6 linked regions of the Homo sapiens genome follow. The protein of the gene in region 2 purifies or fractionates together with the protein of the main gene of each other region. This does not show direct contact. Each region holds a gene or a part of one and is shown on either strand. Other genes may lie near its edges. The genes, in order: ANO6, LRRC8B, TM2D3, SUGT1, CDH2 and MFAP3.

The links.
Region 1: the proteins of LRRC8B (region 2) and ANO6 purify together in Homo sapiens (affinity purification with mass spectrometry; 2 studies listed by BioGRID and IntAct, with this or other methods). This does not show direct contact.
Region 3: the proteins of LRRC8B (region 2) and TM2D3 purify together in Homo sapiens (affinity purification with mass spectrometry; 2 studies listed by BioGRID and IntAct, with this or other methods). This does not show direct contact.
Region 4: the proteins of LRRC8B (region 2) and SUGT1 purify together in Homo sapiens (affinity purification with mass spectrometry; 2 studies listed by BioGRID and IntAct, with this or other methods). This does not show direct contact.
Region 5: the proteins of LRRC8B (region 2) and CDH2 purify together in Homo sapiens (co-immunoprecipitation; one large-scale study listed by IntAct). This does not show direct contact.
Region 6: the proteins of LRRC8B (region 2) and MFAP3 purify together in Homo sapiens (affinity purification with mass spectrometry; one large-scale study listed by BioGRID and IntAct). This does not show direct contact.

What each region holds. Positions count from the first base shown.
Region 1 is NC_000012.12:45,400,010-45,405,033, reverse strand, and holds part of ANO6 (anoctamin-6), read right to left. Parts: intron 3,240-5,024; coding exon 3,014-3,239; intron 1,963-3,013; coding exon 1,793-1,962; intron 1,596-1,792; coding exon 1,498-1,595; intron 1-1,497. UniProt on the Homo sapiens protein: Small-conductance calcium-activated nonselective cation (SCAN) channel which acts as a regulator of phospholipid scrambling in platelets and osteoblasts.
Region 2 is NC_000001.11:89,526,862-89,531,885, reverse strand, and holds part of LRRC8B (volume-regulated anion channel subunit LRRC8B), read right to left. Parts: intron 4,925-5,024; exon of another isoform or gene 4,900-4,924; intron 1-4,899. UniProt on the Homo sapiens protein: Non-essential component of the volume-regulated anion channel (VRAC, also named VSOAC channel), an anion channel required to maintain a constant cell volume in response to extracellular or intracellular osmotic changes.
Region 3 is NC_000015.10:101,645,580-101,650,603, reverse strand, and holds part of TM2D3 (TM2 domain-containing protein 3 isoform a precursor), read left to right. Parts: intron 1-442; coding exon 443-600; intron 601-3,704; coding exon 3,705-3,879; intron 3,880-5,024. UniProt on the Homo sapiens protein: Probable positive regulator of Notch signaling.
Region 4 is NC_000013.11:52,697,040-52,702,137, reverse strand, and holds the end of SUGT1 (protein SGT1 homolog), read right to left. Parts: 3' UTR 1,229-5,098; downstream 1-1,228. UniProt on the Homo sapiens protein: May play a role in ubiquitination and subsequent proteasomal degradation of target proteins.
Region 5 is NC_000018.10:27,952,839-27,957,694, forward strand, and holds part of CDH2 (cadherin-2 isoform 1 preproprotein), read right to left. Parts: intron 1,790-4,856; exon of another isoform or gene 1,680-1,789; intron 1-1,679. UniProt on the Homo sapiens protein: Calcium-dependent cell adhesion protein; preferentially mediates homotypic cell-cell adhesion by dimerization with a CDH2 chain from another cell. Cadherins may thus contribute to the sorting of heterogeneous cell types.
Region 6 is NC_000005.10:154,044,808-154,049,831, reverse strand, and holds part of MFAP3 (microfibril-associated glycoprotein 3 isoform 1 precursor), read right to left. Parts: intron 276-5,024; 5' UTR 110-275; coding exon 1-109. UniProt on the Homo sapiens protein: Component of the elastin-associated microfibrils.

The sequences.
Region 1 (5,024 bases), on a different chromosome or scaffold from region 2:
TGTTTAGAGAAAGACCCTGACAGTTTCCATTGAAGATGGAGAATAAGACCTGTTAAAGAAATCTGGAAGGAGGCACTGAAACCCGGAGTGAGTTAACTGCTCAATAAAGAGAATGAACAGAAACTTGGTGACTGGGGAGAAAAAAGCCAGGAGTAGGAGAAGAAAGGAGAGAGAAGTTGTATGTGATGGAGGCAAGAGGGCAACATGGCAGGAGGCGAGAGCCTGTAAAGAAGGGTGATAAATTTTAAAAAATTCCCAGCTATATAGTGGGATAAAAGACTTTTTATAAAGGTAGAGGTTTTTTATTTCTAAACAAGGGAAGAGGTGGTGGGGGAGATGAGAGGAGGAGGACAGGGGGAAGAAGACAGAAGGCGGGAGAGGTGACTACAGAAGATAGTCACAAACACGAAACTTTGCTGGCTTTAAGATGGAGAAGAGGTTACAAGGCAGGGAGCATAGATGGTGGCCTCCAGAAGCTAGGAAAGGCAAAGAGATTCACCCCAGAGCCCTTGGAAATGAACACAGCCCCACTAACACCTTGATTTTAGTCCAGTGAGACTTCTGACCCCCGGGACCATAAAATATTACATGTTATTTTTATCCCATTAATCTTGGGGTAATTTGTTATAGCAGCAATAGAAAACCCAAACAAAAAGCTCCCTGAAATTTGCAGAAATTGCAGATGGTGTTGGACTTTACACTTTGATAGTGGAGGGGGCCTAAGTGAAAATTGTAAAGGGCAATGAAATCTTAGTTAACATTTGAAGTACAACTATTCTGTTGTTCTCATTTTTTAGGAAAACAACAGTAAGTCAAAGCCTTTGTGATTATTATTTTAGACAATTATTTCTTAAAACATTATATATCCTAGTGCCTTAGGATCATGAAAGAACCTCTATTCTTAAAAGTTTGTACTCATGGGATCCTGGATTTGAATCCTACAGTAGTCTCTTAATGCTAATGTGAAACTGGGTAAATCATTTAACCTCTTTAAACCACAGATCTTCATTAGTAAAAAGGAGATAAAAATAAGGATAGTTTGGTAGATTAAATGATGTATATATATATATAGCACTTAATATAGTGACTGGAATTCATACTGACTTTTAAATGCATAATATATAGGAAAGAGAGGAGAAGGATATGAGGATATAAGAAATTGTGGAAATACACAGTTCACAGCTCTAACCAGTGCTGTCGCTCAAAGGGTTGTGATTAGTCAGTCACCAACAATAGCCCAGTAGGTATAAACTCTAGCAGATGGGGATTTACATTAAATATAATGAAGGTTTTAAAATACAATTATTAGATCCTGGATACATTTGCATTGTTGGTTGGACTATGTTGTCTGGAGACCTTTAATGACAACAGATTCTGATCCATTTAGAGGTGGACATGCAGCTATGTGGCTATGTGGCTATGTAGGCAAATGATTTGTGTGGATGGGCTGTTCTATCCCTTGTCCTTTTACCCATGGCTATACAATTTAACACTCACGGCAATAATACTTCTTGTATGTTATTCCAGATTGCTTTTCCTCCCATGATTATTGTCAGCTGAGTTGTCAGTTCAAGAAGACAGCCACCTGGGTCACACTAGAAGGTTAAAAAGAAAATACCATTTAAATATTCAATGGATCTAACTTGAAATATAGGCATTCTATTTTTCTGACATTTGTTCTGTTTAGGCTAAAAAATAAATCTAAGGAATTTACAATAAAAAACTATTCATTTGGGCAACTGAGAGAAAACTCAGCTTAAACTGGCAAGATAATACAATTATATATTCATACCTCTTCATTTCTGTATTTTCCCAACCAATAAACTGGGTCTCCTGGATAGCCTACAAATTTGCCCTTAAAGAATGCTATGTAGAAGCATGAAGAGTAGTAGTTGACAAACTGGAATAAGAACATCTTCATGGTGAGGCTGTTCTCATAATCAGTCTGGGTCCTTGGGAGTTCTGTAGTTAAAAGAAAGAGAAATAAGATTTTAAAATTGTGAACAGCTTTGAGACTCTAATAAAAAATACTGATACATGAGTTAACACGTTAAACACGTTAAAAAAATACAATTCACACTGTTTCCATTTAAGCTGTTTTGAATTCCTTAATATAGCCACTGTGTTAATTCCAAGTTTGCACATTGTTATGAGTTCTCCCTCACAGTAGGAATACAATAGCCCACATGTTCCCCCCTGCCCCACAAAAAAATCAACTGTTCCTTAAAATTTACAAGTCCAGTGTTATCAAATAAGAACTGCCATGGGTATAATTGACAGAAAATTATTTTTGAACTGCCTGCTAAATGATATTCTCTTGTTTTCCTGAATTGCGATAAGGTAGGTCTATTGAAGAAAACAAGCAAACCAAGGTACAACTTGCTAGAGGCATTTGGGAAAAACAAAATAGGTCATCCTCCTAGTGTGGAGTTTGCATCAGTTTGATCATTTTAGATGATCACCGAGCAGGCCATTCAGGGAACGACTCAGACGTATGCAGTGTGGGAAGCACTTAACTTGGCCACTAAACAGCTGCCTGGGATACAAGCCAGAGAGAAGAAACACATTAAAAAATCAAGGGCTGATGAGAATTATATTAATATGAACAGCACAGCACAGGGAAGACACGTAGCAGTGTGATAGCTTGTCCTCTCAGCAACCGAGGAACATATTTGCCACCGGAACCATGACCCTATTCCACTTATTTGCAATAAAGAGACTATTGACTTTCAACAATAGAGTACATGATCTAATGTAATTGAAAATATTATTCAGCACTGATCTGTTTACAGAGAGCTTGGACGTTATGATGATTGTCTTTGCTTTGTCCCTTTTACTAATGCAAAGCTGTAGATAATTTATTTCCATACATGCTAGAGAAAATATGTTTACACTTGAAAATTTCTAAAAATTGTAACCTACTGGAATTGAAACGCCTAAAAGATAACAGTCTCTATTTTTGGCAGGTTCTAAAAATATGTCAGAAGTTACCTAAGCTATAGTAGGACCTTACCGAAGTTAGTAATCATAATTGCCACTTTTTCATATATGGTGTTCAGAATCATGATAATTATAAAGCTGATGATGGAGGCCGTGATGGACGTGGCTGTCTGTGGAGTCAGGTATTTCTGGATTGGGTCTGTTCCATTAATGTTCTTGGGAAGTTTTGCAGAAAATACAATGAACACCGAGAGCCTATAGACAATGATCCCAATAACTGAAGCGATGATCAATAGGATCTGAAAGCACAACAAACACAGTAGCATGAGACTCACCAATAACTGCACTTGTACTATTAAAAACTGAACTCACACTTAACAAGGTGTGTGTGTAAAGTGATGTAAATCTCACATAAGTGATACCAGCGGTGGTAGAAAGTCTGGCATGTTAAATTTTTTAAAAAGAAAAAGGAATGATGGAAGTGAAAAGAAGGCGCATCCACATATGTAAAACATTAACTAGAGGAGAAACTGGGTGCAGGGGGTGGTGGGAAGGAACTGGAAACTATTTTATGTGCAATTTTTCTGTAAACCTAAAATTGCTCTAAAAAAAGTCTATTTAAAAAAGAGTATCTTCAGACAGCATAAAAATGGAACAACTAGTAGCATACTCTGGTAGAAGGAAAAAAATGAGTGTAGAACCAAAGAAAACATCCCTTCTACAATTACTAAATTATTTAAGTTGTGAGTTAATGTTTTTTGCTCACTCATACTCCATGAGGGAGCTACATTTCCTTGCAACAGAAAAGCTATCACCAATTGAAGTGTCAGCAGGTGCTAGCTTTTGTCTTAATCACTGTAGCAGGGGAGAGTCTGAGCACTGCCAGTGAAGCTGGCACAGAGGTGCCCTGAGCTAACTGTTGGTACTGGCAGCAGGTCTCTGCTGATAAAAGCTTCACACACTTTTCACACTCAGATCTTACGACCTTAAACTGGCAGTCATTTGTACTTGTATTTCCACAAGATTCACGCCACTAGTCCACTGTATTTTTGACTGCATAATCCCCAGTAAGAGATTTTCACTTTCTCAGTAAGCAGATTTCTCACCACTCAACGACGCACATTAAAGGCGCCATGAATTTTCCTTACTTGATACACAGTACTAGACACTATTGGAGAGGCATCTTTAAACTGTTTCCCCTACATCTACTTTCTCCAGAACCATGCACTCAAGGTGTGTGACTGCTCGTGATGACAGAAAAGTTTCAGAGAAGGGAAACTGAGGACCAAGCAAACCATATCTTGTTGTTGATAGTAACAGAGGCCAGTTGTCACCTGTGGAGAGCAGTAAAGGGAGTGATTACAGGATGGTCCTGGGGCTAGATTTCTCTATTTGAGTACAAGCTCCACTGGGGCTTCAATATCTTCTCTTGTGTATTAGGAATACTATGGCACCTAACCTATGGAGTTGTTGAGGATTCAATGAGTTACTTCAGGTAAAAACAGAATATTAAGCTCAGATACATGAAAAGCACCAAATAAGTATTAGCTATGATTATAGCAACCAAAGTTAAGTGTTAAAAAAGATGTTTTTCTTGCTCTTTAAGAAATCTGCTTGTAGAGAAGGCATTACATTTCTCCTGTAATCTATTTCCTTTCGCAGTTAAGTCTCAACACTTGTGAGATGAGTAAGATTTGTGTGTATATGTAAAAATTAGATAAGGCTGAGAAAAATTAAAAAGATGAATCAAGTCATCCTCTCTTAGCACAATACATACAGGGTGTTTATTATGTGTTTTTAAAAATTATCTCCATAATGTTTATTATTAATGATAAAGATAACATTCTTTAAGTGCTCTCTGTTCACCTTAGCACATGTATATTTGTTTAATCTCATAACAGGCTTGTGAGGAAGGTAGTATAATATTATCTCTCTTTTACTGATGAGAAAAGAGAGGCTCAAAGACATTAAGCAATATGTCCAAGATTAGATAACTAGTAAAAAGAATTGGGGTCTCCTAAGATTCTGAAGACACACTCACCTCTCCATGGCACTGCCTCCCACGTGGTTTATGAAATGAATTC
Region 2 (5,024 bases):
ATTGCCTGCGAACCTGACCACCACACACAACACTAGGCCTCTGAGAAACTGCATTATGATTGAAGGAAACCAAAATATTGCACCCCAAAATATACTTCTTTGACATATTTTGAGATGGCTGTTCGGAGGGCAAAACAGAAGTAGGCCAGTAAAGCTGTCATTTGTTCGGGAGATTTGTGTCTGTAGAGTATCTGCACTGATGCAGCCAGGCTTTCTCTGAGGCCCCACCTTGTCTGTCTGGATCTAGGAAAGATTAACTGAGAATCTGACAGCTTTAAAGGTCTGAAAGAAACATTTACCATCTATTCTATCTGAGGGCTGCTACCAGAGAGGATCATCTAGATAACAAGACCACCTTTGCTAGCCAGGCCTCCTCTTCTCTCCTTCCCATAACCTGTCTTGCCACCATAACCTGATTTACCACCATTACCTGTTTTTGGCCATGCTCTCAGCCCCTGTTCTTTCTGTTACCTCAAGATGGTATATAAGCATTAACCATCTGGCCATTTCTTTGAGTTTTTAAAATATTTTATATGACTCCTGTGCATACATGTGCACATAATAAAATTTATCAGGCTTTTTTTCCTGTGAAGCTATTATCACTTTGTTTCATAGACTCAAATTATCAAACCTTCAGGGAAAAATTTAAACTTCCCTACATGATTCAGAAATGCTTCTGAAAGACAAGTCATTGCTTAGCTTAGGACTGCTTATTTTAGCATTGAAATAGGGCCAGGAATAAACTCAGTTTTGTTAAAAGAAATGAACTTAAAATCTTTAGATGAACAGAATTTATCTTAAATTTGTCCACTCAGAGCAAGAAACATTCTTCAGTGCAATGGCTGATGGCTCAACCCCCAAGGCTCAGTCATGCCATACCACAATACATGGAAAATACCACAATACGTGGAAGATGCATGGAAGTAGAGTGCTCCCTGCCATCCTCCAAGGCTGTTACAGGGATTAGAGAGGCATTGTTTCCCCACAAACTCCCCTAATAGCTCAGCAGGACACGGCAAGGAGAAACGGCACCTCCCAAAGCACCTGTCAATAGCACCCCCTGCCATGCTGGTTCCTGTCTGTGCAAAATGGAAAGGTACGGAGGGACCGGCCGTTGGGGTTGTCCACCCGCTTTGAGAAGGCCATCCCATGCATAGTCCAGTCACCCAACCCTCTGAAACACACTGCTCATACTTCCCATCCTGTGGTCATTTTCCACTGCTGCTTTATGCGCTACTGATTTTTTGCCAACAGTCTTTCTTCATTCAGCCATATGGTTTCAAATTCCATTTGCTAAGGATGATGCAGATCAACCCTCTGGCCCTCTACAAAAATATCCTACTTTACAGTGCCCTGTCTCAGATGCATCTGCTTGTTGTATCAAGACAGCATCTGTATTTAAAGTTTGCTAATATAGCCCAAATAAACTGTAAAAGAATTAGATTATTCCTGAGTGTCATATTGAGAAGTTATATTATTATATACTCTTATTTATTTATTTATTATTTATTTATTTATTTATTTTTGGAGACAGAGTCTTGCTCTGTCGCCCAGGCTGGAGTGCAGTGGCACAATCTCGGCTCACTGCAAGCTCCGCCTCCCGGGTTCACGCCATTCTCCTGCCTCAGCCTCCCGAGTAGCTGGGACTATAGGCGCCCACCACTATGCCCGGCTAATTTTTTTTTTTTTTTGTATTTTTTGTAGAGACGGGGTTTCACCATGTTAGCCAGGATGGTCTCGAACTCCTGACCTCAGGTGATCCACCCACCTCAGCCTCCCAAAGTGCTGGGATTACAGGTGTGAGCCACCATGCCCGACCCATGTCTCCTTTATAACAACCTCACAGTGACAACTTCTCATCTGTTTGCAGTGAGTGAGTGATTCACCTGTCCTCCCCAGTATGGTCCCAGATCTCCACGAGGGTGGGGAACATGTGCATTTTTGCTCATCATCATTGCATCCCCAGAATATAGTACAGTGCCTGGCACAAACTATATGCTTAATAGCTACTGAAAAAAAAAATACTGTGAAATAAATTAAATGGTGGTAAGGTTTAGCTTCTGAGAGTGGGTCAGCCAAAAATAATTCAAGGCTGAGGAAGGTTAAGGCTTAACCATTCTGTATCATTAACCATTCCATATTTTGTTATTTTATAACAAAATATATAGAAAAAATTTTGCTGTCACTTGGGTGATAAACTGATTTTAGAGATAATTTTATAACTTTCTAAAAAATAGAATAAGTACTGATTTTTGAAAAGGCTCACACAAGTTAGGCCAAATTAAAAAAGAAAAGCTACCACTTTACTGAGGACAGTATTAAGCACTTTATATACTTTTTTTCTTTCAATTCTAATGGTCAGTTATTATCCAGTTTACAGGTAAAAAAACAGAGAGAGAGAGAGAGACTATGGTTGCATACTGAGGGAGGATTTGTGTCCAGATCTATTTGATTTCACATGCCATGTTTTTAGGCTAAGAATAAATGCTGACATTGAGTAATAACGTCTTGCTCCCTGACACTCAAAAACCTCATCTCCTCCCATGACAAGGTACAACACAGCAGTCTCGTAACACCAAGTGGGGTAAATGCCCAAGTATTTAAAATATTAATAGGATTTGGGGGCCAGTGATGTTGTAGCAGGGAAACTAGACAATTAAAGGAAAAGAAGTAAGGAGGAATATAAACAGGATTTACTGAAAGCATGTTTTACGCCAGATACTATATTAGATATGTTAATGTATAACATTTATTTTAATCCTAAGACTCCTGTGAGAAAGACAATACTAGTCAAGAAAAAAGAGATTTAGGATAGCTATGGTGTTTGGATACCTCCAAAATTCCCCACTTTTTTCTAAGGATTTGAGTCTCCCACTTTTTTTTATTTAGCTAGGAATAAGACTGTCTGGAATAAGGATAGTATTTCCCAGTCTCTATTCCAGCTACCTGAGGTCATGTTACTAAGTTCTAGGCAATGACATATAACAAGAAGTATATGACAGCATCCAGGAATTTTCCTTCAGAGACCATGGGCTCTTGCCTTTCCCCTCCTTCCTTTTTCCTTCTTTCCTCCTTTCTGCTACTTGGAACTTGGGGGTGATGGCTGAAGCTCCATCTTGGGATCATGAAGCTGAGGGCCTCATCTTATATATGGTAGATAATCCAAAAAGTAGAATCAGCCTAGTTCTCAGAAGACTGTAGAACCATCATACCAGCCATAGAATGCCTCTCTGCAAGTTTGTTTAATGTGAAAGAGAAACAAGCATCATTTTGAATAAGCCATTGTTCTTTGCAGTCTCTGTAGCTGGCAACTAATTTTAACTAATCCACAACTCATCCAAAGTGATGGCACAGAGTTCAGAATCAGGCCTGTCAGTCTATGAAGTTTGTTCTCTTAGGTAAAACCTTGAAGAACTCTTGCTTGTAATTTGCAAGAGATTTTGAAAAGAGAAAAGTTTCAAAATGCTGAAAAGGAATTTGACAGAAGAAAATAAGGAAAGTTTGAATATGCTCTTAAATCTGCTACCTGAGAAGAAATCAAAAGGAATATGCTACTCAACAATAAAGAATGTGGTCTCCATGAGAGATGAGCAGAGGAAGATCTCAGTCACCTGCATGGAGCTGGATACGGAAGAGAAATAGAAGCTGTGCAGCTGGCAGCGTCTGTGAAATATGCTGTGCTTGTTAGCTGAAGAATAGGCATTGCAGAATGGAGCCCTGGAAATGGTCACAGGATGACAGATGAGAAGAAAGAATTTAAAGGGATTCTGAAATTTAAAAAAAGCAAGAGATGAAGTTTAAATATATACAGTCTAGAAAGAAACAAGCAGAATCACATGACCCATATCAAAAGCAGCAAAAAGGTCAGAAAGGCAAAAAGGAAAGGTCAAGGTTGAAGCCCTGACAACTCATTTTTATTCATTTCCTTTACTCAGGTTCACAGCAGCACTGAAGGAGTAAATGTAAATTGTGTGGCAATTGAGTAGAATCCTAAAGGAAAGGCAGTCATAGAACAGGGAGTTTATTGTTACCCTTTGTTCAATTTCTAAATGAACCACAGTGATAAGAACTTAGGAGAGAGATCAGTGATTGGAGCTAGGCCTAATTTTACTTAAGATCAACCTTAATGATCAGAAAAAGAAAAATAGGTTATTATGTCTGCCAAAGGCATTATTTTAAACACCAGAGAAATTAAGTCATAATAAAGGCATGTAGGAAGTTTAGAAAATACAGATGGGGAATAAAATGAAAGTAGGCAATAGCAATAAAAGGCAGCAATATGAAAACAGATATGACACAAATTAGAAGGTATTTTACAAATGGTTAAATAAATTCTACACTATAACTGGGTCTCCCAAATTCCTCTTGAATGGTCACAGGTCTGAACTGTTTGCTGATGTACCCAGTGCTCTGGGAGTCAGGATAGCAGTGGAGAACCTGCTCCATGCAAGGCAATGCAAATCATGCCACCAAGTGTGTAATAACATGACAGAATCAGAATGCATTCATTTCTAATAATATCAGGGTGTGGTAGAAGGATGCTGGGAAGGAGAAATAAGAGTAAAATTAGAGAATTCAACTTTAGAGACACCAAATGAAAATCCGGGATTGGGTTAAACAGGCTATGAATAGTAAAAAGTCCAGAAAACATAAAATACTCAGGTACTATTAGAAGAATTTGAAAACTAAAATACAAAAACAAAAACCCTTGTTTATAAGAAAAACATTGGCTAAAACAAGGATGTTCTAAATTGTAAAATATTTTTCCCCTTAAACTTCAGAAAACAACAAAAAATAACAAATTTCAGGCCACTACAGGAAAATACATGGATTAGTCTAAAAAACTTGGAAGGCTTAGTATCCTTTAAGTTTTATTAAGCCCCTTTTCATTTTACTTACTGTTGGTGTTTTCACTCTGAGGATTCTGAAAATTAAAATAGCAATGGGAAATGGTGATAGTGGTAGAGAAGAGGTTTAAAAAAGCAAATCTCAACTAGTCAAATGAAATCATTCAAAATGTGAAA
Region 3 (5,024 bases), on a different chromosome or scaffold from region 2:
TTCAGATGAAAAGAACACGGGATTGGAAATGGAGAGATTTGGGTTCTAGTTCCAGTTTTGCCACAGACTTCCTCTGTGATTTTGCAAAACCCTACTGTAAGTTTTTTTTCAACTTACAAAATGATAGTCTTTTTTTTAAGCCCTTAATGTATACCCAGAATTTTCTATACATTATTTGTATATGAGCACCTTTAGTTTTCACGGCCACGTGGGAGGCAGGAATGAAGTAATGTTTTACAAGTGTGGTGCTCACCAGGTCCCACAGCTGGCCGTGGGCAGAATTCTGCTTTAATTGCAGGTGTCTCTGACTCCAGTCCCATGCTTCTTCCCTTCCAGTGCAGTGTCTACTTGCTAATGATCACGTCTCTTAACCTTAGAAGATTGTTCTCTGTTATTCGAATCAGTATTATAGGAGAATAAGCTTCTCTCTTGCCTCTCACAGAAAGTACTGAAATCCCACCTTATGTGATGAAGTGTCCGAGCAATGGTTTGTGTAGCAGGCTTCCTGCAGACTGTATAGACTGCACAACAAATTTCTCCTGTACCTATGGGAAGCCTGTCACTTTTGACTGTGCAGTGAAACCATCTGTTACCTGTGTTGTAAGTACTGCAGCTTACTTATTCTAAATAAATTCATTGTAAACTTTAAGTTAGAAGAACAATTCAGACTTGATTATTGGGAAGAAATTCTGAAGAATTTTTATATTCTTTTATGATTTCCCTTTTGAGTATGTAAGCAGAAATAAATTAAAAAACCCAATAGACCTTTCCATATCAGCTCACTACTGTTTTAGTTATAATGATAACTGTCAAGCCAGTTGATGTCTGCTGGAAATGCACTTGACAGAAATGTTGCTTTGTAGGACTGGAGAAGATCTCAGTCTACTAGCATATCTGAAGCAAGTCTAATTCGTTCAGATGGATTCTGTGTTCTCAATAGTGACAGCTAGTGTACAGAGGGGGTGGCAGTGTCTTTCTGCCATAGATGAGCTTTTGAAGGGCCAGTGCTTATCTGTGGTGAGAAGATGGATTCAGTAAATGCCGGAATGCCTGGTAGCTCTCTAGAACAAAATTAAGTGGAACGCCTGTCTTATCCAGAATAAATTCCAGATAGTCCAAAGATGTAATGTGAAAAATGAAACCCTGAAGTACCACAGAAAACACCAGATAGTTGCTGTTATAATCCCAAAATGGAGAATATTTTTCTAAGTATGAAATAAAGTTTAGAAGCCATAAAATAAAGAATTGATACATTTGACTCCTAAAAATTGGAGATTTCTGCATGACCTAAAAAAAAAAGCATAAAGGCAAAAGACATGGCAAACTAGGAAAAAGCGTTTCTAGAATATGTGACAAATAATACAGTAATATCAGTAATATATAAACACTTCCTAAAACCCACACGGAAAAGATGACAGTCTTGTAGAAAAACAGTGTTAGGACATGAGCAGATGGTTCATAGGAAAGGAAATACAAATAGATATATAACATGAAAAACATATAAGTTTTCTCATAGTATTTAATTAATACATTTTTAACCCTTAGATTGGCAATTTTTTTTTAATTTGATTAACTCTGAGTTTGTGAGAGTATAAGGGTCAGATGCTCATATCTTATTAATAGGTAATCAAATTGATCAACCTCTTGTAGGCGATTTGCCATATCTGTTAAACTTACACATGCACACAATCGTTGAGCTCGTAGTTGTACATGTAGGAATTTATGTTATAGATATCATTATACATGGATGCAGATAAGTGTGCTTATTTTTTAGCTGCATTGCTCATTAAAGCAAAAGATTCAAAAGAAGTGAAATGTCTAAGAACTGCTTAATTTATGGTACACGTGTAATAGAATAAACACCTTGTAGCCATTAAAAAGAACTAGGCAGCTCTAGAGGTAATGTACTGATAGATGTCCAAAATTAAGTGAAAGTATTGGGGAACATTAAATGTAGGTGACATAAATGTGCCTATGTGTAGAATCAGCTCTCTCTGGAAGCACAGAGCGTACTTGGCCTGGGGAGGGCAGGGGCTCCCGGCGGCTGGGCCAGACGAGGCCGGCTCACTTCTCACTCTCCTGTTGTGTCTTGACATGTGTTCCATGTACATGTGTCACCTACTTTTTAAAAAACCATTAAAAAAAGTGTGTTTTAAGCACATCACTGAAAATAGGCAGATGTAAACGTATTATTTTGCAGATCCAACTGTTTGCCTAAATCAAGTGATGCCTTACCCATATTTGAATGTTTTCCATAAAAAGTGGTTTTTGCATTGATAAGAAAATGAATAGTACTTGCTTCATCAGCGCATATGCCAAAGTTGGAACCATACAGAGAGAATTAGGATGGCTCTTCTGCAAAAATGACATGCAAATTTGTGAAATGTTAAAAAAAATAACAAACATGGGCCGGGCGTGGTGGCCTACACCTGTAATCCCAGCACTTTGGCAGGCCGAGGCAGGTGAATCACCTGAGGTCAGAGGTTGAGACCAGCCTGGCCAACATGGTGAAACCCCATCTGTACTAAAAATACAAAAATTAGCTGGGCGTGGTGGGGTGCGTCTCTAATCCCAGCTACTCAGGAGGCTGAGGCAGGAGAATCGCTTGAACCTGGGAGGCGGAGGTTGAAGTGAGCCGAGATTGCACCACCGCATTCCAGCCTGGGCGACAGAGCGAGACTCCATCTCAAAAAAAGAAAAAAAAATAATGTGTGTATGTGTATATATATGTATACATATATATACATGATGCTTCCAGAGATGTGTGACCACATAAAAATGATTTTGAAAAATATGCACTGCAATGTAATGTCAGGTAGAGTAAAAAGACTACAAAGTGCTTTCAGTATAATTCCATTTTAGTAAATTTATAAATATACATGTAGAAGAAACGGAAAGAAGATTAAAAGTGGTTAGCTCTGAACACCTATAGGTTTTTGTCTATAATCTTCAAATATGTAACATACAAAGAACATTCTACTTTTGTAAGCAGAATACAAAATAATGGCTTTTAAAATTGAAATGAAAAATTCTCTGGCCACCAGTGAACACTCACTGAGCCTCCACACACCATGTGGTGCTTCTGAGTTGGGCTGCCTCTGGATTAAACATGCCACATGCCCTGGTGGTAGGAGCAGCTGTAACAACCCTGAGTTGCCAGGCTGTGCAAGGTAGGGGATGTTAGGGAAGGTTGGCAACTCGGAAGCAAGGCGGTGTGTTAACCATTACAGAAGCATCAGGCTGGAGTTCAGGGACCTGGATTCCACTCCTCACTTGAAGCTCAGTGACCTTCAACAAATGCATTCATCAGTTCCTTCCAGCCATCCGTGATTGTGACTTTCTAAAATAAATTTTCCTCTTTTCTGCATTATAAAAGTATACGTTTACTATGAAAAATTTAGCTAAGCAAAAGTTATGAAATAATTATATCACCCTGAAATAACCTTTGCTATTTTGATGTGAATTTATCTAGTTTTTTCCCTTAAGTACATATGTTTGGGTGTGTAGTTTTATGATTATGAGGTCACATCATAGGCATTTGTTTTACATACATATTGTTTTGGTAACTGTTTTTCTGGCACTTACTCCTAGGTCCTAAATACAAGCATTTACGGAATTTTGTGCCATGTGACTGTGTAGTCTTACTGACATCTTAACAGACTACACCATTGTGATTGATGAGTTTTGTGTCATTTGCTACATAGGATCAAGACTTCAAATCCCAAAAGAACTTCATCATTAACATGACTTGCAGATTTTGCTGGCAGCTTCCTGAAACAGATTACGAGTGTACCAACTCCACCAGCTGCATGACGGTGTCCTGTCCTCGGCAGCGCTACCCTGCCAACTGCACGGTGCGGGACCACGTCCACTGCTTGGGTAGGTCAGAGTTCAAGGACATTTGTCAACAAAATGTTTTTCTCCAAGTTTATTGAAGGGACTTTAACCAGAAATTTGCGAGTCAAGTTACTTAATTAGAAACATTTATCAGCAGCTCTTTAGATGTGCCAAGCATCATCAATAAACTCAACGTACTAAAGTAAAGCATCCAGAAAATTGCAGTTCTTTTTAAATGTAATATTTGATAAAATAAGAAAAACATTTGAAGTATAAAGCATAATACACAGTAATTGACCTTTACCCAAAATAACAATGAAAGCAGCACCAATACCATTGCGGCCGCCTGAGTGCCTGAGTGCTTGCCTTCACCTGGTTGCCTTTCCTCCTCTTCCAAGGTAACCACCCTTTTGAATTTTTTATTTCACTTCCTTTTAAATTTTTTCTGTAGTTTTATTGTCTATATGTAATAAAATAATATTCAATAATGCATGTTTTAGAACCGTGTAAAATGATTTCAGGCTGTGTGCTCTTCTGGGACTTGCTTATTTCCTAAACATTGTGGCTCTAGGATTCATCCACGTGACTTCTCTTCTTTTTTTTACTTCTGTGTAATAATCTATTGTAAGATTGTATCACAGTTTATTCTCCAATATATTTGGTTAAGTGCTGTTTTCCGCTGTTGTGACTGTTCAAATTTCTTTGCCTGTCTCCCAATGGCACAGGTGCAAGAGCTTCTTCAGCATGTACTTTCCAGCGTGTGTCATTCTTTAAATGGCTGTATTGACTGGCATTCCCACCCGCGCTATGTAACTGTTCCTGATGAGCCATATTCTCTCCAAGAGTGGTTATTCTTAAATTTGGTCTTAAAGTTGTCTAGACTTCTTTTATATTTTGGATATTACCTGTGCTGTCCCTGAAACCCTCTCCCAGATTTTGATTTTTTTTTTTTTTGCATTATTGTATATTTTCATGAACAGAACTTTAAAAATATAATTACTGGAAGTTATTAGAGTTAGTCCTTTTTTGTGGTGGTTTTAAGAAATCTTTTTCTACCCCAGGTTAATAAAGACAATTTGCTACATTTTCTTTTGAAAGTTGTAAGTATAACATTTCACATTTAGGTTTAGAATCCACCTGGAATTGGTCCTGGTAGATGGTGTGAGGTAGATTCTACTTTAATTGTC
Region 4 (5,098 bases), on a different chromosome or scaffold from region 2:
TCCCAGCCCAGAAGAGCATATGGTCTTATGAGAGATACAGATAATCAAGGCACACCAGACAAAGCCTTGATAAAGATGGAAGCAATGGGCTTCTTGGAGAATGTCTACTCTCTAGATTTTCAAGGATGAGCAGGAATTAGCCAAGTGAAGGTGACAGAAGATTTGCATTCCAGGCAGAGGGAGTTTGAGTAAGACCAGAGGTGTGAAGTGAAGCTGCATGGTACAAGCAGGAAAACAGCATTCAGGTCGGGGTAGGAAATATCAAGATGAAAATGTAGGCAGAAGCTTTAAGTGGCATGTTAATCTGGGGAGTGTGTGTGTGTGTGTGTGTGTGTCTGTGTGTGTGTAGGAAATAGGAAATGAAAAGTTGCAGGCAAGGAGGGAGCTGGTTAAGTTTTCACCTTAGATGAATCCCCCTTGGTAGCTTCCCATGTGAAAACTGAGCAGGTGCCATACAGGCCAAAGAGGCATCTTAATAAGGACAGCAGGTCATAAGGGAAGGCTGACTTTTGAAAAGATGCTCCCTTTCAAAGCTTCATAATTAGATGAAAATATAGGAGGTGCGTAATTTACTTCTAACAGGCCAAGGGATTATGTTGTGTTATGAAACGTCACTAAATACCCAAGGACATCAATTTAACAGAAAAAATCAGGATGATTTAATAACAGAGGAAAAATTCAAGGTTGGATTAAGGATAGGAATGACAAAGGAGACTTAAATTGTATTCAAGGATGAAAATAAGGGTCTACTTTGAAAGAGAAGTGGACAGATGAGCATTCAATAAAGGAAGAGAGGGCAACAGGGAAGAATTACAAATTTCTTCACAACTTGGTACTACTAATTTCTCAAATTACTTTTAACCAGGCCAGTCTAAAAGTTGCAAATACAGCCCAGTTTGCTGTGCTGAATCTTGACTGAAATGTTAGTATGTGTGTATAGACTTATGTGTATTATTGGTACTTCATTAGATACTCATTTAATTCTCAGTAGTGGTACAAACCAATCCTGATGGAACATCTCAAGTTAGATTTCAAGGTCCTAGTTTGACTCGGAATGGAAGGAAATATGTGACAGCTGCCATTTAGTCAGCACATGGAAAATGTTTTCATTTTCTGGCTGCAAAAACTTGTGTGTTTTTACACCTCCCCTTCCACCAGCACCTCAAATAACTGTGACACTAAAAAAGTAGATATAATACTAAGAATAACCACTTAACCCACTCAACAGTTTCTTACATCAGATTTTATTATACTGAAATACAAGCTACATTTTTACAAAATAGAAATTCTTTGTGAGTGGATTGACTTAATTTTATTTCTGTATAAGCTAAATATGTTGATCTGTTTTATGAACATGTATTTTATAAAAATGGTCACAATATATTTTTTAAGTTAACTGATTTATTGAGGGAGGAGGAGAGAGTTGACCAAAGTCTACATGCATAGACAGTCCTAAAAGCGTATCTCAAACATGAAGATGTAAATTTGAGAGTTAATGATACAAATTTCAGCAAAAACATTTTACAGGCAGAGAGTGTTTTGGTGTTTATAAAAGCTGAACTCCTTTTGAAGGGCTTTTGTACAAATACACATGCTCATATACTATATGCATATATAGGTGTACTTCATTTTGAGAAAGTCCAGTATAATACTAGCATCAAATTTACAAAACAGGTTTAGTGTTGACTGACTGAAGAACTCACTACAGGTTTTACTTCAACTGCTTACATTCAAAAGTATTCAATTTACAAATTTTAGGTACTTACTGTGTAAGGTAAGTACATCTATACATAAATACTTTTATGCAGGTATAATATAAACATAGCAAATAGCTGAGGCTATTTTCTAAGGTGTTTGGCTTAGTGAACCTTTTTTACATCTTTATAGTTTTAAAGTCAAATACATAGCAGTCTTTATTTGGGTGTATGTTATCACAGAGGAATAAAAATCAGTAATGGGACTGGGAACAGTATACCCACTAAGTTAAATTAAGTCATTGGTTAAAACACCAAATTATTCAAAACCATTTAAGAGATATGCCCCACTAAATTCCCTCTGAATTTAGTCATTTACAGATGTTGTGTTTCGTATTCCTGTTCTCACCTTTGTGCCTGCTCCTTTGCAAACATTCTTTTCACACCAAATTCTTAGAACTGAATCAGAACTGCAGAAAATCCAACACCTTTTCTCTCCTCTGCACATGGCTACAAAAATTCTAATAGTAACAAGATAGTGTGAAAGACATACCTCTATATACTTTTTACTAGCATTGCATTTGCAAACTTACTTGAAATTACTTTTTTAAAAAAACAGGATTTCTATGGCGTCCTGTCCTTCAGGGTTCCTTCTAAGGTATGAATTGCTAAGAATTTTCTTTTCAGCTGCCTATATTTCATCAGCCTTGATAATTAATCATCTTTTATACTAAATTTGCCATATACTGACAAAGTCAAAGACCTGTAATAAACTAGACAAGCAAAAACTTTCTCTTAGCGGGACTAATGCTGTTAAAGGCAAATGGTTTCCTTTCCATTAAAACCATATTCCTGCCTGTTAAGTTACTGAGGTAACTCCAAAAAATTAAGCAGTAAAAAAGATCTCCATGGGATGTGCCCTAACACAAATTCTACTCGGCCTACTCAACCAGCACCGTAATTTTTAACATTCACTTAGCACCTATGGGTAATTAAACAGGCATCATCGGAGAATATTCCAGTTGCTAAATGGTACCCCATTATTAATTAGTACTATGCCATGGCTCTCTCTGAGTATTTCTCTGCTCAGTTCTAGTAATATCTTAGCAGTGATAAAAGTGTTTTGCCCAAATAGTTATTCTCATTTTGTTTCACTTTGATTGAAACAAACATTTGATTTTCTTTCATCATGTGCTGTCATACGGTGATATGGATTCAATAACTTAATCATAATGACCCCCCAAGATTAAGAAGAAAAAAAGCATCATTCAGCATCTCTCCTCTACCTTTTAATTTCTGTGTTAAGAGGGAAACAAAACCTTCAAAGGAGCAAGCCAAGTAGCTTTTCCTCTTCTCTAAACTTTACTGGAAATAAGGCATTAGAGGTGATTAGTGCTAATCTCACTTCTGTTCTCTCCTTTACTCCTTGACATCACTGTGTTCTACATGCAGTCCTCCAGGTCACCTGCTTCAAAACCATCAGTTCATTCAAAACAAAGATTTACTGGACCCTCTCTCAAAGGTACTGATTCAAAATCTCAGGAGGAAAGTAATGAAGGTCTACATTTTTAAAAATAAGCTTCCCAAGTGAAGGTTACTCACCAATAAGCTTAAGAACCACTACCCTATATATCATACAAAATAGCTGCCCAATGTTATAATTTTAGTTGTCCGATATCAGAATGTCAGCAGAGGATTAGGGCAAATCAGCTAAGCATGGTGGCTCACGCCTGTAATCCCAGCACTTTGGGAAGCCAAGGCAAGAGGATTACTTGAGGCCAGGAGTTAAGAGAGCAGCCCGGGCAACACAGCAAGACCCTGTCTCTACAAAAAAAATTTAAAAATTAGCTTAGTGCACTAGTAGTGCAGTCCCAGCTACCTGAGAGGCTGAGGCAGGAGGATCACTTGACTCCAGGAGTTGGAGGTTACAGTGAGCTATTGTGTGCCTGGACAGCAGAGCAAAACCCTGTCTCTTAAAAAAAAAAAAAAAAAAAAGATTAGGATAAATAAGTTTTAAGAGAGAGTCTATCACCAACGATCTGAGTGAGTTACATTAAAAACCTGTATGAAGAAAAAAGTATATGAGATGACAGCACTCTGGAAAAAGTGCATCTGTAAAACCAAACGTTTGGACTACATAGTATTTAAGATCCATTCCAGCTCCAAAATCCTGACTTCGTTTTTGTCTCCTCATACTGACAGTGGATGAAATGCAAATACATGTTTGCATTCCAGGGAATAAGAGGTTCCAAAGCTACCTCTAGTCTTGTCAGATGGCCCATAAAAACATGCTCTGTTGATCTGATTTTAACAACTCTAAAATAAAATCCTATGCTACACATATTCCTAAGTCCCTGTTCACAACCGGTCATTCTCCAATCTTGCCTTGGTACTTATTCTGCTGTAACTGTACTTATATTCCAGAACAAGAAATAGCTTTGCTAAACAAAGATTAGACTAACATATGCTATTACCTATAGTTTAATGTGTTAAGGAATAAACGGCAGACATAAGTTGAGTATTCAGGCTGAGGGCTTCTTTCCACCACCACAAGCTAAGCTCCATGAAGGCAGGGAATTTTGTTTACCTAGTACCTAGCACCTAGCTCAGTGTCTGATGCGTATTTGGCAATCAATGAATATTTGCTAAGTGCATAAATGAATGAGTGGATGTCATGAACCAAGTTCTTTTTCAGATACCTATATTATTCTACTACATACCTTAAAGTAAAGGCTCACTCAAAGAAAAAGTGTATGGCTTTTGACTGCAAAGACTTGAAGGGCCTCAACGGTGTTGATACTGTTTAAAAATAAAGTATACAACCCTCATCAAAGAGGGTTTTCTAGTACTCAGTATCTCAAAATTTCTTCAGGGATTCCAGAAAAAAAATGGACACGTGAGCAATTCAAACTTTTGTCTCCAAGAAGATTGGTATGCTTATAAATTGACTCACTCTTTGTTTCCATATTGCTACATATGCTCAAACCTAATTCCACTCCTGGCTTTTAAGATCTGGCCTCTCCTGTACTCTCCCCAAGACATTTGGGCTCATAATTTTGTATGAATGGAGGGCTAACCTAGTTAGAAAGTAAACTTCAGTCCGTTCAATTAAAACACAAAACAAAACAAAACAAAAAACAGCCGGGCACAGTGGCTTACGCCTATAATCCCAACACTTTGGGAGGCCAAGGTGGGAGGACTGCTTGAACCCAGGAGTTTGAGAGACCAACCTGGGCAATGCAGGGAGACCCCATCTCTACACAAAATTTAAAAATTAGCTGGGAGTGGTGGCACACACCTGTAGTCCCAGCTACTCAGGAGGCTGAGGAAGGAGGATTGCTTGAGCCCAGAAGACGGAGGCTGCAGTGAGCTGCGACCATGCCATTACATTCCAGCCTGGGCAA
Region 5 (4,856 bases), on a different chromosome or scaffold from region 2:
AGCAAATGACAAGTGACAAAACTATGAAGTCAAAGCAAAAGCCATCAGGTTGTGGGGGAAAAAAATTCACATCAGCATTAAGAGCTAGGAGTTCAAAGAGAAAGTAGCATTGTATTTGACCTCATTTTGGAAGGACATCAAAGGAAGACTGAAGACAGGTCAGATGTGATTACTACATAAAGGGAGGTACTCAGAAAATCATTTATGTGACTAACATAGCATAAAATGTGGAATTAATTAATTGTAAACTGGTATTTTAAAAAATAGGGTATCTTCTAACTTCCAAAAAATCCTAGAAATGTCATAATCCAATATCTGTACACGGTATAAATATTGAAAAGAGGAGGACTCCTGTCAATCTAAAATAACATGCGTTATCTGGTTCTTATAAAGAATTTTAAGAAAAAAGAAACAAGGAAATAACTACTATCTATATTTGTAACTTTTGTAAGCAGATGCTTTTTAATATACAATTAGAGTCTCTATGCTCTGCAAAACTTCTAAGGATTTAGTATTAGGTCCTCTGGTATATTTTCTACTTAATTTTTTCCCCCAATTCCATTCTAGTACTCCTAGATACACTAACATTAGTCTCCAAACAATCGTTTGCTTTTTCCACACTCTACTTGTCAAATGCTAGTTGGCTTATATGGCCTCACCTATCTAAGATGTGTCACAGACAGTCCTACCCTTGAGAGATCAAGCCTGCCAATACACATGCATTTTATGAGCGCATACATGGGTTTTTATGAGCATGTGTTCACCTATCCTTTCAAGGTTACAAAGGAGAAACAGGGAAGAAGAGCAAAAAAATTAAGGTCAGAATCAGTATGGTGTAGTGGTTAAGAGATCAGACTGTGAGATGACACCTTAGCTCTCCCCAGTACTAGCTGTGGGACCTCCGCTTAACCTCATCTACAACTGTAATCATAATAATAGGACTATTATAAAGACCAAATGCAATAAAGGGACCCGAGGTCTCACCACAGTGACTGGCACATGTAGAGCTCAATGAATATTAGTTAGTATTTTTAAAAAATTTAAGTTTTGAGAAAAATGTCCTGCCTTGGGATTTGAAAAAATAAGAAACGATGAAGATATATTTTAAGAAACAAAATGGCAGCTGCTTGACTCACGTCAAAAATCAGAGAAAAAAGTACACATGACCAGTTTTCTCATCTCCAGGTACCTCTTTACTAACAATCCATGAAATTTAGCAGTACTTTACTACTTTTCGTCATGTCATTTTATACTGTTTATACTCCAGAAAAGCCTGTGTAAAATAAAATAAAGCAGGTTTCAGCAAAATACTTTGATATATACAACATAAATAACTTTAGATAGGATTTTATCTTATTTTTAGACTAAGCTACAAGGCAATTCTGCTAAGACTGAGAACCACAACCTACAATTTCTCAAAACTTGTAACTCCCTTCTGTGGTAGATTGTGTTACTGCCCTCAGTGATTCACTGCTCTTTTTCTGAAGGCAGAACACACACCCACACTCCCACAGAGCCTCTCTGGGGTCAGGGTTTACTTTCCCAACCACACTGTAAGGCTTGGCTGTCTGACTGGCTTTGGCCAATGCAATGTAAGTAGCTGTGAAAAGTACCCGCTTCAAGAACTCTATCTAATGTGTTTCCACCCTTCCACTAATCCCCCTTTCCCCCTCTGCCAGGAGAATGGCCTGCTCCAGATGGGAAGTTTATCTGCCTGGATCCTGAAACGAAGACGACATATGGATCAGGAACTGAGTCACTGACAGACTACAGCTGACTTACAACTTAAGTAAGAAGTAAACCTTCATTATTATAAGCAGCAATATTTTGGAGTGGTCAGTGATTGGTACCTTAGCTAACAAAAGCCGAAGAATGCACCTTCATTCATTTTGTTTGTGTTTATTCATTAGATTCAAGATGTATTTGTTGATTATCTATTAATATTATTGCAATGTATTCTGCTAACTGGTAGAGACACAGCTACTAATGAGCTAGATCCAATGGCTGCCCTCGTGGAGTTAATATTCACATATTAGCCTACACTCCTCTTCCCTACAAGATCTAGCAACTGCAAATTTAACCAACAGCGGATTGCCTTAGTTCAGCATTGTCTGACTTGGGGTCATACAAGTAGGCCCAAGAAGGATCTGAAGAAAAAACAAGAAAAATCAGGGAAATTCCTGATAAGGAGAATGGGTCCCTGAAAACAAATATTAAATTTTCATTATGACAATTGCTTTATAATACAGACAACAGAGACAATGGCTAAGATCACTTTGTTCAGGTCATCTGCTTTACCACAATTTAATTATTAAGCGAAAATACACACAGAGCCCTGGCCCAATCCTTATGATGTCAACACCAAACTGGAAATATGGAGAGGTCAAGACTCAAATTAGGGATAGCATTAGGAGAAATACCTAATGTAGATGATGGGTTGATGGATGCAGCAAACCACCATGGCACGTGTATACCTATGTAATAAACCTGCACATTCCGCACATGTATCTCAGAATTTAAAGTATAATAGTAAAAAAAAAAAAAAAAGAAAAAGAAAGAAAAAGAGAATGACAAGTTAAAAAAAAAAAAAAAGACTCAAATTAGCCCGAAAGGGTCAATGGCAAGGCCTCAAGTGTGTCTGAATTTGGAGGAGAAAAAAGGGATGGCCTGTGTTTACTATGTCCAGGGAATAAACACAAGAAGGGGTCTGGTCTTCCCTGGTGTGTTCACGGACCCCAGGACTCTTCATCAAATGACTAAGCCACCTAATTCAATTCCTTAAAATAAATATAATGCTTGTGATAATCAACTCCCATATCCACTATTGAGAGTCTAAAAAATATTATTTTCTTTATTTTTTAGCTCCTGCCCTGGCTTTCTGATCATCCTGGTAGTTTACAAATCTCTGTTTTCTTTATTTCTGTTTTTTTTTTTTTTTTTTTAAAGAGGTTAAGGCCATAAAATCCATTAGAGAGAGACCACTGTGCTATGCTAGAGCACGGCACATTGCCTTATGTTTTAATAATTACAAAAGGGCAAAATCACTGAACTTTTCAAGAGTTCTTAGACAAGCCAGCTTTCTATGCAGGTTAAGTACTTTAAATCCCTTCCATTTGGATAGCACTGATTTTTATCTGAGAATAAAATATGACTCTTCTGAACGAGGTATTATATAAACTCTTGGTAATATTTTGGTAATTCTAAAAAGATCGCACTGAAGTCCTAAGAAACTGACAGTAACAGGCACGAAATCTGAGTGAATGTACAGAAGAAATCCAGTGGGCAACAGAACCTTCTGGTTCTCCCTTATGGGATTCCTTTATTCTTGGATATGAACATTATTTCACAGGATGTACTGTTACCAAATTTACAAACTAAACGCCTGTGTTTCTCTAGGTTTGACTAAATTTAGCAAAGTATCCTCTTGTTCCACCTTTCCTGGAGAGGTAGATCTTGAATTCTGGATAAAGCTGAACTGTCTTCTAAAGACTGAGGCTTCTCTGCAGAGTGAGAGAGCTTGGCTCTGGCTGAATTCTTGCTGAGCTTGTATTTATAGACTTCTGATCCCAGGCTTTATGGGCGGAGACATGCTTTTATGAGGATAAAAACCCACATTATCCAGCGAGGAACACATGAGGGATGTAAAAGAAAAGAGGTCTTACTGTTTCCTTTACATTCTGTCTTCTACAGTCCTAGTGCCACTGCTTTAGTGGAGGTCATCATTATATCTTGCCTGGACCAGAGAAAAAGCCTGCCTAACTGGTCTTCGCCTGTCTCCAGCACTGTTCCAGCTTCTTTCCTACAAACTATTGGTTTCTGTCTCAAACGTTATTTGATATCACTCCCGCAAGTAAGACCTCTGACTGCTCTCTATGACTCCTTCCAAATGAAAGAGTTCCCCCGACAATGGGCAAAATGATTTTTAATTGGTGCATGAACACTTTAAAACAATTATTTAAGAAAATTAACTTAAAAATTGATGAACAGTTTAAGAAAATAACAAGAAGTACACAGAGAGGGAAAAAACTGGAAGGTGTTAACTCAAATGCCTGCTGTTGGGTAACCTACAGCATACAGTAAAACTCTTTAGAAAGCATTCAGTGAACCAAGACTGTTTACCCACCTTTTCTGTTTCAGCTATTCTCAGCTCCAGCAACCACGACTGAATTATGCACCCCCAAAGGGAATCCCCCCAAACCCCAAAGCATCATGTTCTTGTGCACTTCTATGTTGTTTATTCATTTTTTTTAGAATTATACTTCTTATATTTTTTATCTGATTAATATCCATCCATCCCATCCATCCATCCATCCAAAAGCTCATTAAAAATATCACTTCGACTGCACAGATCTTTTTTCCCCAACCATGACTTAGGAGTCATTCCTGTGGTCTCTCTGGTCCCTTCTACTTTTTTATTTTTTATTTTTAGAGACAGGGTCTCACTCTGTACTCCAGACTGTAGTGCAGTGGCACAATCATGGCTCACTGCAGCCTTGACCTTCCTGGGCTCAGGTGATCCTCCCACCTCAGCCTCCAGAGTAGCTAGGACTACAGATGCCTGCCACCATGCTCGGCTAATTTTTGTTTTTTTTTGTATAGAGGGTTTTTTTATCAGGTTGCTGAAGTCGGTCTCAAACTCCTAGGCTCAAGCGATCTGCCTGCCTGAGCCTCCCAAAGTGCTGGGATTACAGGTGTGAGCTGCTGTGCCCGGCCTCATCTACTTTTATCATCTTGTTTGGATGACACTAGATTGTGACATCCCTTTCTACAGAGGCTGTTTTGTATTCACATCTCACTGTCCAACACACTGCCTGACATTCAACAGGTATTCTATAAGGTAACTATGCATTGTTGTC
Region 6 (5,024 bases), on a different chromosome or scaffold from region 2:
GATTTGCTTCCAGTGAAACCATTTGGTCGAAGTCCACATCTTCCAAAACAAAAGCAGCTGGCACAATAATACTTGCCACTAAAGTGAATAAGCAACAATGTAGCTTCATGGGAAAATGGGACAAAATCTTGTTTAGATTTGGAGAACTCAAAAACTTCTACACTACAACAAAAGCACAGCGGGTAATTTATTGCTTGGTAGAGAAATTTTCCAAACAAGTGGTAGATCCAGTTATATTTTCTAGTCTTCAAGATTAAAAGATGTGAGTAGAGAACCTAAAAGAAAGCCAGATACAAAGTTTAACCAACTGAGATTCATAATGGGGTGAAAGTGCGTATGTTCCAGAATGAATAGATGTTAATTAGAATAATTGGTGCTGACATTGGGGAGTAATTAGATGGAACAGTACCTAAAAATCTCACACAGAGACAGCAGAAAAAGCAATGAATTGGTAAATAGCAGACCTAGATTTTGGTCCTAGCTTTGCCACTAACTAGCTGTACGACCTTGGCAAGCAGCATTCTCTCTGGGTTTCTGTTTTCTCCTCTGTCAAATAAGGGACTGGATGAGATAATCTCTAAGGACTCTTCCAATTCTGAAATGCCATGATTCTATTTCATTCTGACAAATTTTATGCAACAGGGAGCCAATGAAGGCTAAAATATTTATCTTAATGATCTTTTATTTCAACCTGCACCATTACCATCTGTTGTTATAATGTAAATCAACTGGCATATCATAATCATAACCATGGAGCTCAAAATTTGAGTAATTCAAGTATGAAGATATGTTACATATAAATAATGCAGGGACACCTGAGGTGGGTTGTTTTAACACTGGAAAGAAAGCTGCACTTACTGCATACACATAAATAGAGTTATTGACTTCTAAAGCTATGGAACCTCCTTCATGGGCAAGAACATTAGACAACAGAATTTTCTTTTAATAGTTTCTCCAATACGAAGAGACAAAGTACAGTGTATTTAATAGTTTGTAAGCATACCAAATTTCTAGCTCAAACTCTGTAAACTAGCTAAGGGAGGAACTGACATCTTAAGTGTCTAGTTAGTAGAAATGCAAATATAAAACTACAGGGACAGATTGTTAGACACATTTAAAAGAAGAGCAAAATATCTTGAATAAAAGGCAAAATAACATCCTAGTCCAAAAGTCTATGTATTTATGATCACCTTCCTGGTAATTTGACTCCCCCTTTAAGCCACCAACTCTCAAAGAAAAAATTCAACTTTTATTTCTATAAAATATGGGATGAAATGCCTAGCTTTATGTCTTATAAAGCACCAAGATAATTAGTTTTGGAAATGACATTTACTCTCCTTTATATTTATATGAAGGCTGCTTGATCACAGAACATAAAAAACAATGAATCACTGTATTTTGCCATTAAATATCTCAAAGTCTAAATTACAATACGGTGCAAATGTCATTTAATTTTCATTAATTAACCCTTGAAAGGATGGTTGAATGGTGACAAATACTTTTCTAAATCTTTACAATTTAAGGATGGGGTATACAGAGTAAAATAAAAAACCTTCAGACTTTGGCAATACATGACACACTAAACGTGTTTATTTCCATTTCCTCCTAAAACCGCACAAAAAGGACACTAAAGGAAACAAAGACTTAGGCAGAGAGGGGATTTTGGAAGTAATATAATCTAATTGATTCAGTGCACAGTGATTTGCTTCTTACGACATGCTACAAGTTAGTAGGAGAATCTAGTTTGGAATACAGTCTCTTTTTTAAGAGGGGGTGATGGGTAGAAACAATGGAAATAACATTTATTGAATGACTGCCATCAGCCAAGCACTGTGCTAGGGGCTTGACATGTAAGTTTCCAAGCTCTTTTTCACTGCAAGATATACAGCAATTGGAGGACATAATTTTGTACTTTATTCTAGATTAGTGGTTCTCAACGGTGACAGGCTATGAGTGTGCTGAAAAAATGCTCCAGGCTTTCTCCAGAACTTTGATTAGGAGTTCCTATAGCTTCATCCAGGGCAGCACTTCCCAAACTTCATTCATTCCTTCTCCTGTCTTTTTTGTTGTTGTTGTTTTTACTATATCCATGAACCAAATTATCGTCATTTCTGCTTTTCTTTTAAATCAACTCATTTTATTTTTACTTTCACATTTATTTAAAAAGGAAACTCTACATCAGTTCTGTGGACAAATGTAACCGTACACATAAACATAATGAAAACAAAGAAGTGTTATTAGCTTCCAGAGATACTACTGCCTGCTGAAAGGCTTTGAGCTGGAGGCTTGCTCTCTCTGTAGTAAAACCAAAACCAAAACAAAAAGCCCCCCACAACTCCAGTTTATTTTAATGCCACCTCATTTCTTAACCTGCCATCTCCTTCCTTTCTACTCTTCCCCACCACTGAGTTTGAGATCGGAGGGATACATTTTCATATACTGAACAGTATCTATTGAGCACCTACCATGTGCCTACCTACTGCCCCATAGACATTGTCTCGGCCTCCACGAAGTTCAGTCTGGCAGATGATGGACACTAACTACATATATACAAAATAAACTCAATGTTACCCAAGGGAAAATACAGATGCTACAGGAGGACCCAACATGGGGAGTTAATCTCATCATGGAAAGCCTCTGAGAAAAAGAGGTGTGCAGCACCTATTCTTCAGGTGCAGGACCTGAAGAATAAAGAGGAATAAAAATTGGGAGGAAAGCACTCAAGGTAGAGGGCCAGGAGACAGGGAAAAATGAGAGGGGTCACTGGTCAGGAGTTGTTCACAAAAAACAGCTAAAAAATTGTGGTAAAGACAGGCAGTGGCCAAAAATGCTGCGTCTGATTCCTGATTCTGGAGGAGAACTAACTGGGCCAATGGTGAAACTGGAGATAGACTCCGGAAGCTGCAGTGGCTGAAGTGAGTGAGGGAGATATTCGTCCATGATGAAGACGTCAAACAACTGAGAGGCTCAAACGTGGGCAGATCACCTGGGGGTATGGTCACATCCCCCCAGGATCAAAGTAGCTAGTGTAGAAGAAACTGGAAAGAAAGGAAATGGATTCGGTCTTCCTGCTCTGAGATTCAGGAACTTCAGCAGAATGAACAGCTGTCACAGGCGAGGGCTGCAGGGCAATGAGTGTCCTCACCAACACAAGGCTTGGCAAAGCATAACTCCCACATGGAATTCTGCCTTCCCGCAAACTTCCTGAACCTCCTATCAAGGCCTTAGCTATTCCTCCTACATAAATTCAGAGTATAGCTGTATAAAGGATGGCTTCTCCTTCACCCCAGAGCCCTCCCCACCTACCGTACTCATCTGGCGCTGGTATATGCTGCTCTGTACTGCTAGGCAGTCTATCCCATCTCAACTACCCCTTAAGAACAAGGCCTATATTTTTTATTGCTGTACGTCATAACTAGCACATGCTCAATAAATATTGATGGAGATTAGTTTAAATTTGATTCAGTATGTGACAGATCTTTATAAATTGAATAATGTTATGCAACAGGGATTATAATTGTTCAAACTGACATACAGTTGCCTATTATAAATTCTCTGAAACAAAAACAGTCAATGCTAACAATCTTGGAAGACCTTAAAAGTACCTAATTAAATGCATTCTTCCGACTCCCAACCTGATACCTTCATTTACCATGTTGTCCTAGAGGATAATGGTAGGAATAAAAGATCACCAAGTGCAGTTTCCAAACCAGGTTGAATATCACAACTGTCAGGAGAGCTTTTTAAAAATATGGATTCCCAGGTCCCAACCCAGAACGAGTAAGAAACTCTGTGTTTGCGCCTTGGAATTTATGACTTTTAATTGGCTCCCTGGGTGTTTCTGAGGCATTGGATTCATGTACTGCATCTAAGGGCCACTAATACAGTTCCTCAATTTCCTCTGCAACTGACCTGCAGAATGGTGCTTCAGGCTATTTGAATATTTCCAATGAGAGATATAATCACTCACATTCCATTCTAGATTTAGATTACTCTAGATCAGCAAAATTGAAGGTCTCTAATAAGAGCAGGGTAGCAGAGAGGTTCAGAGTATAGGATTCAAATACGATCTGTGACTCTAACCAGCCTTGCAACTTTTATAAATGACTTAATCTCCCTGCCTCAGCCCCTCATCTTTAAAATGGGCAAAATAACAGAATCTATTCTCACAGGATTATTGCAAAGTCTGAATGAGGTAGTATACATAAAACACAGAGTCTGGCAATGGTAATCACTGAATAAGCTCTATTATTATTGTTCATGGTTCTTTCAGATATTGAACTAAAATTTACATTTGATAGTTACATCATTATAAAACACTCAGAATACCATGCAACCATTTAAAAATCTTGGGGGTTGGGGGGAAGGGGACACCATTATGCAGTTTTAATCTTAAATTTAAAATTTCACATTTTTCTTTTTCTCATTGCAAATATTTTGCAATATTATGGAGCATATAGGCATTGTAAACTGAGCTTGGATCCCAACCATGATATGACATTGTATGTGTCCTCAGTTTGTGGTAGAGAAGATTTGTCGTGATCTACTTACCCAACGGCTCCCCTCTTTGAGCCCTATCCCTATCTTCTTGGGTCTAGGAGGAAGACAACCTATTGGCAAAGTAAGCTAATAGAATCTTTGTTCTTGGAACTTGGAATTGAGACCCTTGTGGGTCAGGGTCATTTGAGGAAAAGGAGGCATGTGGGGGCTGAGGCAGTCAGGTTTGGGCCACATACAAGGAGAAGCTGTAAGAAAGGACAAGAGGGATGGGGAAGGGAGAGAGTGGGAAGACAGGAAGAGGAGCAGGAGAAAGACAAAGAGAGACTCATACATGGTGCTTTGGTGCCTGATAGAATTCTACTTCCTGGCACTCCTGTGACCCTTTTTTTTTTTTAAAAAAAGAAACAACTTTATTAAATTTTACTCAAAATTAAAACCACAAAAGTGAAGATGAATGTGCAAACACGTAATAAATGCGGAAATGGTTAGGCAGGAGAAAAAAGATTAAGTTCACAAAAAGTTAT